Homo sapiens: one gene and its partners. The protein of the gene in region 1 purifies or fractionates together with the protein of each later gene. This does not show direct contact. Each region holds a gene or a part of one and is shown in the gene's direction. Other genes may lie near its edges.

Evidence for each region.
Region 2: the proteins of DIRAS3 (region 1) and NAP1L1 purify together in Homo sapiens (affinity purification with mass spectrometry; one large-scale study listed by BioGRID and IntAct). This does not show direct contact.
Region 3: the proteins of DIRAS3 (region 1) and DCAF10 purify together in Homo sapiens (affinity purification with mass spectrometry; 4 studies listed by BioGRID and IntAct, with this or other methods). This does not show direct contact.

The regions. Positions count from the first base shown.
Region 1 is NC_000001.11:68,047,828-68,051,991, reverse strand, and holds the start of DIRAS3 (GTP-binding protein Di-Ras3 precursor), read left to right. Parts: upstream 1-1,364; 5' UTR 1,365-1,444; intron 1,445-4,164.
Region 2 is NC_000012.12:76,074,686-76,078,185, reverse strand, and holds part of NAP1L1 (nucleosome assembly protein 1-like 1), read left to right. Parts: intron 1-3,500. UniProt on the Homo sapiens protein: Histone chaperone that plays a role in the nuclear import of H2A-H2B and nucleosome assembly.
Region 3 is NC_000009.12:37,807,297-37,810,796, forward strand, and holds part of DCAF10 (DDB1- and CUL4-associated factor 10), read left to right. Parts: intron 1-3,500. UniProt on the Homo sapiens protein: May function as a substrate receptor for CUL4-DDB1 E3 ubiquitin-protein ligase complex.

The DNA.
Region 1 (4,164 bases):
AGGTCTTTAGACTTCTACGCACCAGGTACCTGGTAGGGGGAGGGATTATAGTGGCAGAAGAGCAGTACCAGTGGCCCACACCACACACCCTGGCCTCAGCTGGCTGGGGCACACAAAACCAGGTGCTACCGTCAACGACTAGGCCCATAGGGTACTGCTGTCAAAACCTGCTGCCAACAACTTCCACACACTCCCCAAAACGCTCGGTAGGCGGTGGTGCGCAGCTTTCAATGCATCCGCCGCCAGGCGCTCACAGGCAAGGGAGAAAGAAGCCAGACGGAGCTCGGAGATGTGGAGGGCAGACGCAGGCGCATTTGGAAAAGGGACTGGCGGTGGGAGGCGCAGAGGGAAAAAGGAACGACACAATCGGGCTTCCTAGCCGCTGGCGGACCCGATGGGGCGTCCTGCGAGGGTTCGGCGAGGGTTCTGCCAGGATAGTAGCATTGCGCCCAAGGAGTGAGAGGCACCCGGGGCTACTGGAGCCAGACCCTCAACCCGCCCTAGTGGGAGGCGAAGAACAACGAAAGCCTCGTATTCCCATTTCTCTAATGGCTAATGACATTAAAGGTTTTCATATGGTTATTTGCCATCTGCATATCTTCAGTGAAGTGTCTGTTTATGTCTTCTGACTATTTTCTAATTGGATTTTTAAAAATAATTGATTTTTGAGTTATTTACATATTCTAGATACTGGTTGTATGCCAGATATATGGCTTGTAAATATTTTCTCCTAGGTAAACCTTTTCAGTATCGTTACAGGGTCTTTCACAAAGCAAAAGTTTTAAATTTATGGAGTCTAATTCATCAACATTTCTTTTTACCGGTCTTGCCACTAATGTCAATTTAAGAACCTTTTGCCTAGCCTTAGACAATAGTTTGTTGTTTTTTAAAACCGTTTTGTAATTTTACTCGTCACAGTTATATCTAGCCACTTAATTTTTATGTAAGGGTTATTTTTGGCGGGGGGGAATCTATAGATGTCCTGTCTTTTCAGTATCATTTGTGGAAAAGATTATCTGTCCTGCATTAAACTGCTTTTGGACTTTCGTCTAAAATCAGTTGGACCGGTTTTTGTTGGCAAAGTTTTGCCTGAAGCTTATTCCAACAGGTGAGAAAAAGTCCACAGTTTAACAGTTCCTCCCCAACCTGTAACCCCGCCTTGAACTTCTGGACTAGCCCCTCGATTGTTGTAGATGCCAAGCGGACCTCGCGCCGCTCTGCGTTGGGCCAGCCCCTCACAGCTGGTTTCTTACCACGTATTGCGCAAGCGGAATCTATGCCTGTTACCCACACTCCCTGCGCCCCCGCACCCCGCTCCTGTGCGCAAGTCGGAATATAAAACCGCGGAGGAGTGAGCTCTTGGGGTGTCCAGTTGGTTGCCGCGGCAGTCTCTCCGAGCAGCGCATTTGTCTTCTAGGCTGCTTGGTTCGTGCCTCCGAGAAAGGTAAGTCTTTCTTTCGCTTTTTTAGGGGTACTTGAAAACAACAAGTGTCAGACAAAGCAGCAGATGCTGTTGCGCAGTAGAAGTTTATGGGCGAGTTGTCCCTGAAACTGGAACCAGGTCTTTCTTGGCGCGATTACGCAAGAACCACCCGCAGCCCTGCGGGCTCCTGGCAGGTCCTGCAACTGCACTTTGGATAGTCCCGTTGGGAAGCTAGCACTTTTTAATATAGAAGAACGAGGTTTGATAAGTGTGCGAGCTTAAAGGTTGACACAGTGTCCACTATTACAGCTGCGTAGGTAGCTAGTGTTCAGGAAGTAATAGTGGAGTCATGTAGTGTGAAAGTAAGATTGAAATGGGCGAGGAGGGTAGCAGCCGCCACAGCCACCAGAGAGAAACCTGACCTTGCAGGTGCGTGGTGATGTCCATGAGCCAGGCTGGTGCCGCAACAGCAGCGGCGGGACCTTGAGCTCCGCACGGCCGCTGGGTTTGGACGCCCTCTGGTTCCTGGAAACTTTCACCTCCCCCTCAGCCTGAGGCCAGGTGGCCTGGGAAGGTGGAAGGAGTGTGGAGGGGAGTGGGGGGGGGGGTCCACTGCCTGAGAATGAGAATTCTCTTCACATCTGGAAACTTCAGTTATCACGTGTGTCCTTTACCAATTTTTTTTCTTTTATTTTCTTTTTGATAGAGACGGCGGTCTCCCTATGTTACCCAGGCTAGTCTTGAACTCCTGTGCTTAAGCGATCCTCCCACCTTGACTTCCCAAAGTGCTGGAATTACAGGCATGAGCCAATGCGCCCGGCTGCTTTACCAATTTTCTATGAATGAATTTGTACATACATCCCCTAGAGCAGGAAGTAATGTAAAACAGAATAATTAGTAATGCACATTTCCTAATGTGGGATGTTGGTGGCCAAGAGATATTTGGTCTTTACTGGAACTCTTGATACTAACATGGAGTTTATAATAGTTGTGGAGAGTGCAGACAAGGCTAGGATTTCTGTGACTAGAGAACTCTTAGTGCGTGAAGACCTAAGGAAAGCTGGATTGTTGATTTTTGTTAATAAATAAGATGTGAAAGATTGCATCACTGTAGCAGAAATCTCCTAGTTTTTTAAGCTAAATTCTATTAAAGGTCATCATTGCTAAAGGAATTGTGCCCAGGATTTGGATAGCTGATGTCATTACTTAATATTAGATGATATCAACTAACCACATCTCATAGACTGGAATAAAGTGCTAGATTTTACCTGAAAGCTGCAAAAATGAATGGTTTAGATATATGTATGTATTTATTTTATATCAATTTCAAATATTTACTGTATTAACCTCCCTGGCCCCCTTTAATCAAGAATATAAAATCATCTACTTAAATTTTGCCACTTAAGTTTAGAACACTCTTAGAATCACACTATCTTAAAGAAGCCAGACTAGAATTAGAAGCAAGTTAAGTCTGAAGATATAACAACCAGCAACAACATTTTTTTTTTTCAAATGAAAACTCTAATATGGGGTGGGTATGTTGTGTCACACCTGTAATCCCAACACTTTGGGAGGCTGATGCAGGAGGATCACTTGAACACAGGAGTTCAAGACCAGCCTGGACAACATAGCAAAACCCTGTCCCTACAAAAAATAAGAAAATTAGCTGGGCATGGTGTCACATGCCTGTAGTCCCAGCTACTCGGGAGGCTGAGGTGAGAGGATTGATTGATCCCAGGAGGTTGAGGCTGCAGTGAGTCATGATCGCATGACTGCACTCCAACCTGAGGGACAGAGCAAGACCCTGACTCAAAAAAAAAAAACAAAAAAAAAAAAACCACCACCAAAACTCTAATATGGACATATTACTCTCTCATGGGACTTGCACATTCTAAAAAGGGTCCTTTTCCCCAGTACTGGGAGAGTATGTGTTCAACTACGCAGCCAGCAAGACAGGCTAGTTTATATAGGGAGTGTGCTATTCACAAAAAGCCTCTCTTCTCTTTCTGGTATTGTACATGACACAATCATAGCTGTACCTGAAGAGAAGTGCATTTTAAGGACCATCATCACCTAGAAACATGTATAAATTTCTATACCTAGTGCCACAGGAATGACATTGCCTTGTACTATTCCTACCTCTGTCCAGAGGCCAGCTATGTGGTCTGTCTGCATGGTGCCTAGAACTTTTTCCATCTGACCTAGGATGCTTCTGAAGCAGTCCCCCTGGGCAGCTGTCTGGTATTTAGGATATACCTGTGAGAAAAGTTTCTTACAAACCTAATCTACTATGTTTATTCCTGAACTCAAAAAGTTCATTGACTGTTCAAATCCTGAAATTTTCTCTATTTCCATAAGGCTGAATTAAAAGTACTTTGTTAAAGGTAGTAGCCATGGCAAAAGAAAAACCACTGTTCTGTAGAAAAACTCATTCAATATTTACAATCTTTTCTAATCAGAGATTAGATCCTGAAGAGAAAGGTTCATATATATATATATATATATATATATATATATATTTTTTTTTTTTTTTTTTTTTTTTTTTTTTTACTCCACTGTCATTGTGACTAAGGATTCATGAACTAAGACCCCTCCCTCAGCTCTTGGTGGCACATGGTGACAGCATGCTCAGAGCAAAGGTGCTCCCCATGCCTCTTCTGGGGCTGCACTGACTGCAGGTACCTCCCCTCTCTACATCCCACACCACTGATACCAAAAACCCCCTCCTTTCTCCTGTACTG
Region 2 (3,500 bases), on another chromosome or scaffold:
AACCAAAGTTCACGTTGCTGATAATTGGCAGTTGACCTCAGTGCAAAAGTGCCTTCCTTCTGCTCCTGTTTTGCCCTCAGTTTTGGGCTGGTGATTCCTTACTATCTTGTTAGCATTTCAGTGCTTTTAAGATTTTTAACAAAATGTTTTTGTTAAAAAACATCTGTACTTTTAATTCTTTTCCTTTTTTTTTTTTTTTTTTTTTGAGACAGGGTCTTGCTCTTACCCAAGCTGGAGTGCAGCGGTGTGATCTCGGCTCACTGCAGCCTCCTCCTCTGGGTTCAAGCAATTCTCCTGCCTCAGCCTCCTGAGTAGCTGGGACTACAGGTGTGTGCAACCACGCCCGGCTAATTTTTTGTATTTTAGTAGAGACTGGGTTTCACCATTTTGCCCAGGCTGGTCTCTAACTCCTAAGCTCAGGCAATTCGCCTGCCTTGGACTTTCAAAGTGCTAGGATTACAGGCGTGAGCCACTGCGTCCGGCCATATTTTTCATTGGTAGAATTGATCTGCATAATCTAGTTTGTCGCTTTCAGGAATGAAAGTTTTTCACAGAGATCTTGGAATGCAATTTAATGTATAACAAATAAGATTCTCACTGATTTTATTTAATGTCAACTGCAGTAAAATATTAATACAGGTATTAACCTAAACTTGTGTTTCTCAATGTGGTCTACCTGAGAACCACCTCTCAGAAGCTGAGTTTCTTGTTTAGAATGCAGATTTTTGGGTCCCACTTCCTCAGATGTTTTTCTGCTTTATATAGATGATGAAATAGAGCCAGAAGTTGTTTGTCTTAGTTTGTAGATTGCTACAAAGTTGATGTCAGCCCAAATGATCTGACTACAACTGACTAGAAAATTAGGTCTATCTTACAACCAAGAAATACAATGTAGCCAGAATGGGCAGGTTAGAGCAGCCTTCTCTGGAGGAGTAAATGCCTCCTGTTAATGTTCTGTAAATGTTCTGTCTTGGATCCTCTTTACTAAAGTTTCATTTTAAGAATTTAAACTGTAAATGTAATGCTGCAAATGGACATTGAGGTTAGCAGTGTAGCCATTCTGTGAACACATTAAAATGTTACAAAAATTTAAATTTGGAAGTTTTAGGTTTTGTTTCTGTTTTTGACAATTGCTGGGTTTAGTAGACACTATATATTAAACCTAGCAAATCTCAGAATAAATTTGTGTATTGGAAATTATTATATAAATCTGTGTGTTGGAAAACCAAATGCAGTCATGCACCACATAAATACTTAGCCATTATATTAAAGTTGCCTATGGTATTCAATACAGTCACATGCTGTATAGGTGTGTAGCCTGGGAGCAATAGTCTATATCATAGCCTAGGTGCGTAGTAGGCTATACCATCTAGGTTTGTGTAAGTATACTCTGATGTTTGAACAACAATACAATCACCCAGAGACACATTTCTCAGAACATATAATCCACACATGACTGTAATGGTGAATGGGAAATTAGTTCTCATTACCCCCAGTCCCTTCTTTCTCATTAGGTTACTCTGGTTAGGTTTTTGGTGTTTGTTTTCAGAAAGGGTTTATTTGTATTAAAGTATGTGCGTATATGAGTGGAGATATATATATATATATATATATATATATATATATATATATATATTTCCATATCCAAAGGGGATTTCGGCATACATCCTATACCTTGCTTTAGTGTTCCTTCATATCAACTCAGATCTGTTTCATTTGTGACTGCAAAGCATTCCATTTTTGCATATTCCATTATAGTACTAAGTTTATAATAAGCTTTGTGTGCTACCCCAAAGAAGACAACGCTATGATTGTCAAGATCAGATTTAATTCCTGTAATCATGAATTTTGTCAGTTGGGAGAGACAGACCATAGGTCAAACTAATTTATAATTACAGACTGAGACATCTTATGGTGGAAAGAAAAGAAAGCTTTATAGGAGTGTGTGTACAACCAAGAAATCTTACTTAACCGGAATGTGCAGGTTGGAGAAAGCATCTCTGGGGAGTGAAACTTTGAAATGAGAGCCAAAGGATGTGCAGGACTTGTTCAGAGCTGTGGAAGAACCTTCTAGGTGAACATGGAAAGCAAAGGCATTAGATTCTTTATAATTTTTTCATGGTAGAGCTCATAAGTGAATAAATCTGGAGATGGACATATTTTGTTTTTTTAATTTTTATGTTTTTAAGAGACAGTGTCTCATTGTGTTGCCAAGGCTTGTCTTGAACTCCTGGCCTCAAGCGGTCCTTCTGCTTCGGCCTCCCAAAGTGCTGGGATTGCAGGTGTGAGCCATGGTGCCTGGCTGAGATGGACATGTTTAAGGCTTTTGATATTCCTATTGTCAGGTTGCTCTCCAGAAAAGATACGGGAACACTAGCTGGAAATAAGGATGCATGTGCACTACAGGTTTCCCTGTATTAAAAAGAAGTTATTGATGATGTGGTAGACAAACTGGAATCCTACTTGGATTTCTTTGATGTCAGAGTTCAGTATTTTTCTTATTTTTGATTAATATTCATAATTGCTAAACACTTTGTAAATGCTGACTCATTACCCAGCATCACTAGAAAAATTCATCAGTACTATTAGGAATTATTTATAACAAATACAAAATATTTACAGAGTTAGATACATTAGGAAGAATAATTTTCTTTATAATTACTCTAAAGGATAGATACTAGGTCAGTAATAATGTTTCCCCCAAATATTAGCACTTAACTGCTAAAATCAGGATGTTTTCCATTTTTAACTCTTTGTTCATAGGCATAATACGTTGCTATGAAAGTAAACACATGCAGGATTTTGTGAATTAAATATGTATTAAGATTTTAATTTTTACCAGATAACTTGATTCTATTTATTCATAATTTTTTTAGAGACAGGGTCTTGCTGTATTTCCCAGGCAGGCCTTGAACTCCTGTGCTCAAAAGATCTTCCTGTCTCTTGGGCAGCTGGGATTACAGGCTCTTGGGCAGCTGGGATTACAGGCTCGTGCCACTGTGCCTGGCTAAGATAAACTTGATTTTAACATGGATTCTATCTAAACTTGGTTTAGTTTTTTTTGGTAATCTGTAGATTACCTGTGGCATTCTACCATTTTTTTCTGCCTGGATATAACACATCTGCTTTAAGATTTGTTTTTCCAAAAGCAGTATTCTCCAGGTTCATACTAATCTTTTAGTGAGAAGGAACTTAGGATATCCTCTGGTGAGTCTTAACAGTAAACTTACTCAGGTCTGGTAACCACAAGTCTTGACAATGTCCCTAGCATATCTAGGGGAAGCTGGAGGTTGGTGGTTGTCAGTTATCTAACATGAGGTACATGTACATTTGGAGAGATAGGGAAGGCTTACCTAACATTAAGATTGGGACCTAGAGCTTTTGAAATAGTCTAAATGGCTATTTGATCCAGGGATTAAGTCTTTTAAAAAGATATCCAGAGGGCATAGTGAGTACAGTAGGCATCAGATTTTGGTTTTCTTAAACATGAATTACATAAA
Region 3 (3,500 bases), on another chromosome or scaffold:
TAGGGAGACCTTGTCTCTACAAAAAATTTTAAAAAGTGTGATTTTTTTTAACGTATCATGACTACAAGTTATTTAATGACTATAAATTTAATGTGGACATTCTTAGAAGGGCTTTATCTAGTTTCCTATGTCAATTCATGGTTCAGACAAGGGCATCTGTGTCAAATAAAAGATTATGGCTACAATTTCCAAAAATTAATAAATGATTGAAAATTACTAGAATGATTTAATGAACAATTTGAGCTACAATGGTTATCACCTGGTGAGCATTTTTATAATCTATATAGGTTAATTTATTTAGAAAATGTTTTTAAATTTTATTTATGTTAATTTATATTACCACTGAATTTTCTTTTCTTTTCTTTTTTTTTTTTTTTTTTTTTGAGACAGAGTTTCACTCTTGTTGTCCAGGCTGGACTGCAATGGCGCGATCTTGCCTGAATGCAACCTCCAGCTCCCAGGTTCAAGCAATTCTCCTGCCTCAGCCTCCCAAGTAGCCGGGATTACAGGCATGCACCACCACGCTCGGCTAATTTTGTATTTTTAGTAGAGATGAGGTTTCACCATGTTAGTCAGGCTGGTCTTGAACTCCTGACCTCAGGTGATCCACCCACCTCAGCCTCCCAAAGAGCTGGGATTATAAGTGTGAACCACTGTGCCTGGCCTGAATTTTTAACCTCTTTGAATATCACACTTAACTGTATGTAACAGCCGCTTCATCCTTATATTTTTCAAACACACAAGGAACAGTTATAAAATTTTCACATATGAGACCACAAGTTTCAAAAGATTGGTATCATACCGAATACAGTTTCTCACCACAATGTGATCACTAGAAGTAAATAAAAAGATAACTAGCTGGCATGGTGGTTCATACCTGTGATCCCAACACTTTGGGAGGCTGAGGCAGGTGGATCACTTGAGCCTGGGAGTTCCAGACCATCCTTACAAAAAATACAAAAATTAGCCAGTTGTGGGGCTCATGCCTATAGTCCTAGCTACTCAGGAGGCTGAGGTGGGAGGATCACTTGAACCCCGGAAGCAGAGGTTGCAGTGAGCCAAAATCGCGCCACTGCACTCCAGCCTGGGCGACAGCCTGGGCGACAGAATGAGACCCTGTCTCAAGAAAAATATATATATTATATTATGTAAAAGTATATTATATATAATATAAAATATATATTTATATAATATATAAATATATAAAACATATATTTATATAATATATTATATAAATATATAATATATGTAATATATAAAATATATAATACATAATATATAATATAAAATATATTTATATAATATAATATAAAAATATAATATATTTATATAATATAATATAAAAATATATAATATAAAATATAAATATATTATATAATATAAAATATAAATATATATTTATATATTTATATTTATATATAAAATTTATATATAAAAATATATAAAAATACATACATAAAATATATATTTATATAATATATATTATATATTTTATATTTTTGGAAGTCAAGAGACAAGTATAATTAAAAAGATAACCAGAGACCTGGCACAGTGGGTCACACTTGTAATCCCAGCACTTTGGAAAACTGAGGTGGGAGGATCTGGCAGGAGTTCAAGACCAGCCTGGGCAAGGAAGAAAGACTGTCTACAAAAATTTAAAAATTAGCCTGGTGTGGTGGCATGTGCCTGTGGTCCTAGCTACCCAGGAAGGTGAGGCAGGAGGACTGCTTGAGCTTCAGAGTTTGAGGTTGCCACTGCATTCTAGCCTGGGTGACAGAATGAGACTCTGTCTCAAAGAAAAAAAAAAAAAAAGATAACTAGAAAAGTCTCATTCATTTTCAAAAAGAATTGATAAATTCATGGGTCAAAGGGGAAATTATAATGGAAATTAGAAATGTTCAGAACTAAATGATAATGAAATCATATGTCTCAAAACTTGTGGGATACAAGTAAAGCTGTACTTAGTAGGAAAATTATAGTCTTTAATAAACTGATAAGGAAAATTAATGAGCTAAGTATTCATCTCATGAAAGAGAATAGCAAAGTTATCTGCAAATAATAGGAAAATCAATCTAAAGAGAGCAGAAGGAAATATAGTAAAAAAAAAAAAAAGGTAGAAATTAGTGAAATTTTAAAAACCATCAGAAATACTGAATAGGGACAAAGTTTTGTCTTTGAAAACACTTATAAAAATGAAAAACATCCATGGTACTAAGAAAATGCACAGATAATATTCAGAATAAAAAGAGGGACATAGGTCGGCACAGTGGCTCACACCTGTAATCCTAGCACTTTGGGAGGCCGAGGCGGGTGGATCACCTGAGGTCAGGAGTTCGAGACCAGCCTGGCTAACAGGCGAAGCCCTGACTCTACTCAAAATAAAAAAATTAGCCAGGCATGGTGGTGGGCGCCTATAATCCCGGCTACTCCGGAGGCTGAGGCAGGAGAATCGCTTGAACCCGAGGGGCGGAGGTTGCAGTGAGCCAAGACTGTGCCACTTCACTCCAGCCTGGGCAAAAGAGCGAAACTCTGTCTCAAATTAAAAAAATAAAAGGGTTAGGGGGAGCGGGGCGGCCGTGCGCGGTGGCTCACGCCTGTAATCCCAGCATTTTGGGAGGCCAAGGCGGCTGGATCACCTGAGGTCAGGAGTTTGAGACCAGCCTGGCTAACATGGTGAAACCCCATCTCTACTAAAAATACAAAAAAGTAGCTGGGCATGGTGGCAAACGCCTGTAATCCCAGCCACTCAGGAGGCTGAGACAGGAGAATCACTTGAACCTGGGAGGCGGAGGTTGCAGTGAGCTGAGATTGCGCCACTGCACTCCAGCCTGGGCAACGAGAGCGAAACTCCATCTTAAAAAAAAAAAAAAGTTGGGGGGACAATTTTATATGCAAGAGGTAGATTGTTTGGACCAAACTTCCAACTGAGAATAATCAGAAAAGCTAGAGAAAATATTAAATATTTAATGTAAGATATAGAAAGCTTATGTGTGAGGGGATTAGAGCATTATCAGGGAAATGAAGAAATTGCAGGGTCAAGTTCTAAAAAATAGGAAAGCCAGTGATGTGAGCCCAGCATTTGAGCTCGCTTCTCTGAGAGACATCTGTCAATCTCAAAAGCAGCAGCAGCAATGAGGCTGAATGGTATTTCTTTCTTTCTTTCTTTCTTTTTTTTTTTGAGACAGAGTTTCATTCACTGTTGTTGCCCAGGCTGGAGCGCAATGGCGCAATCTTGGCTCATTGCAACCTCTGCCTCCCGGGTTCAAGCGATTCTCCTGCCTCAGTCTCTGGATTAGCTAGGATTATAGGCGCCTGCCACCACGCCCGGCTAATTTTTGTATTTTTAGTAGAAACGGGCTTTCTCCATGTTGGTCAGGCTGGTCTCGACCTCCTGACCTCAGGTGATCTGTCTGCCTCGGCCTCCCAAAGTGCTGGGATTACAGGCTTGAGCCACTGCGCCTGGCCTCTGAATGGTATTTCTAATGGACTCATGGGTGGGA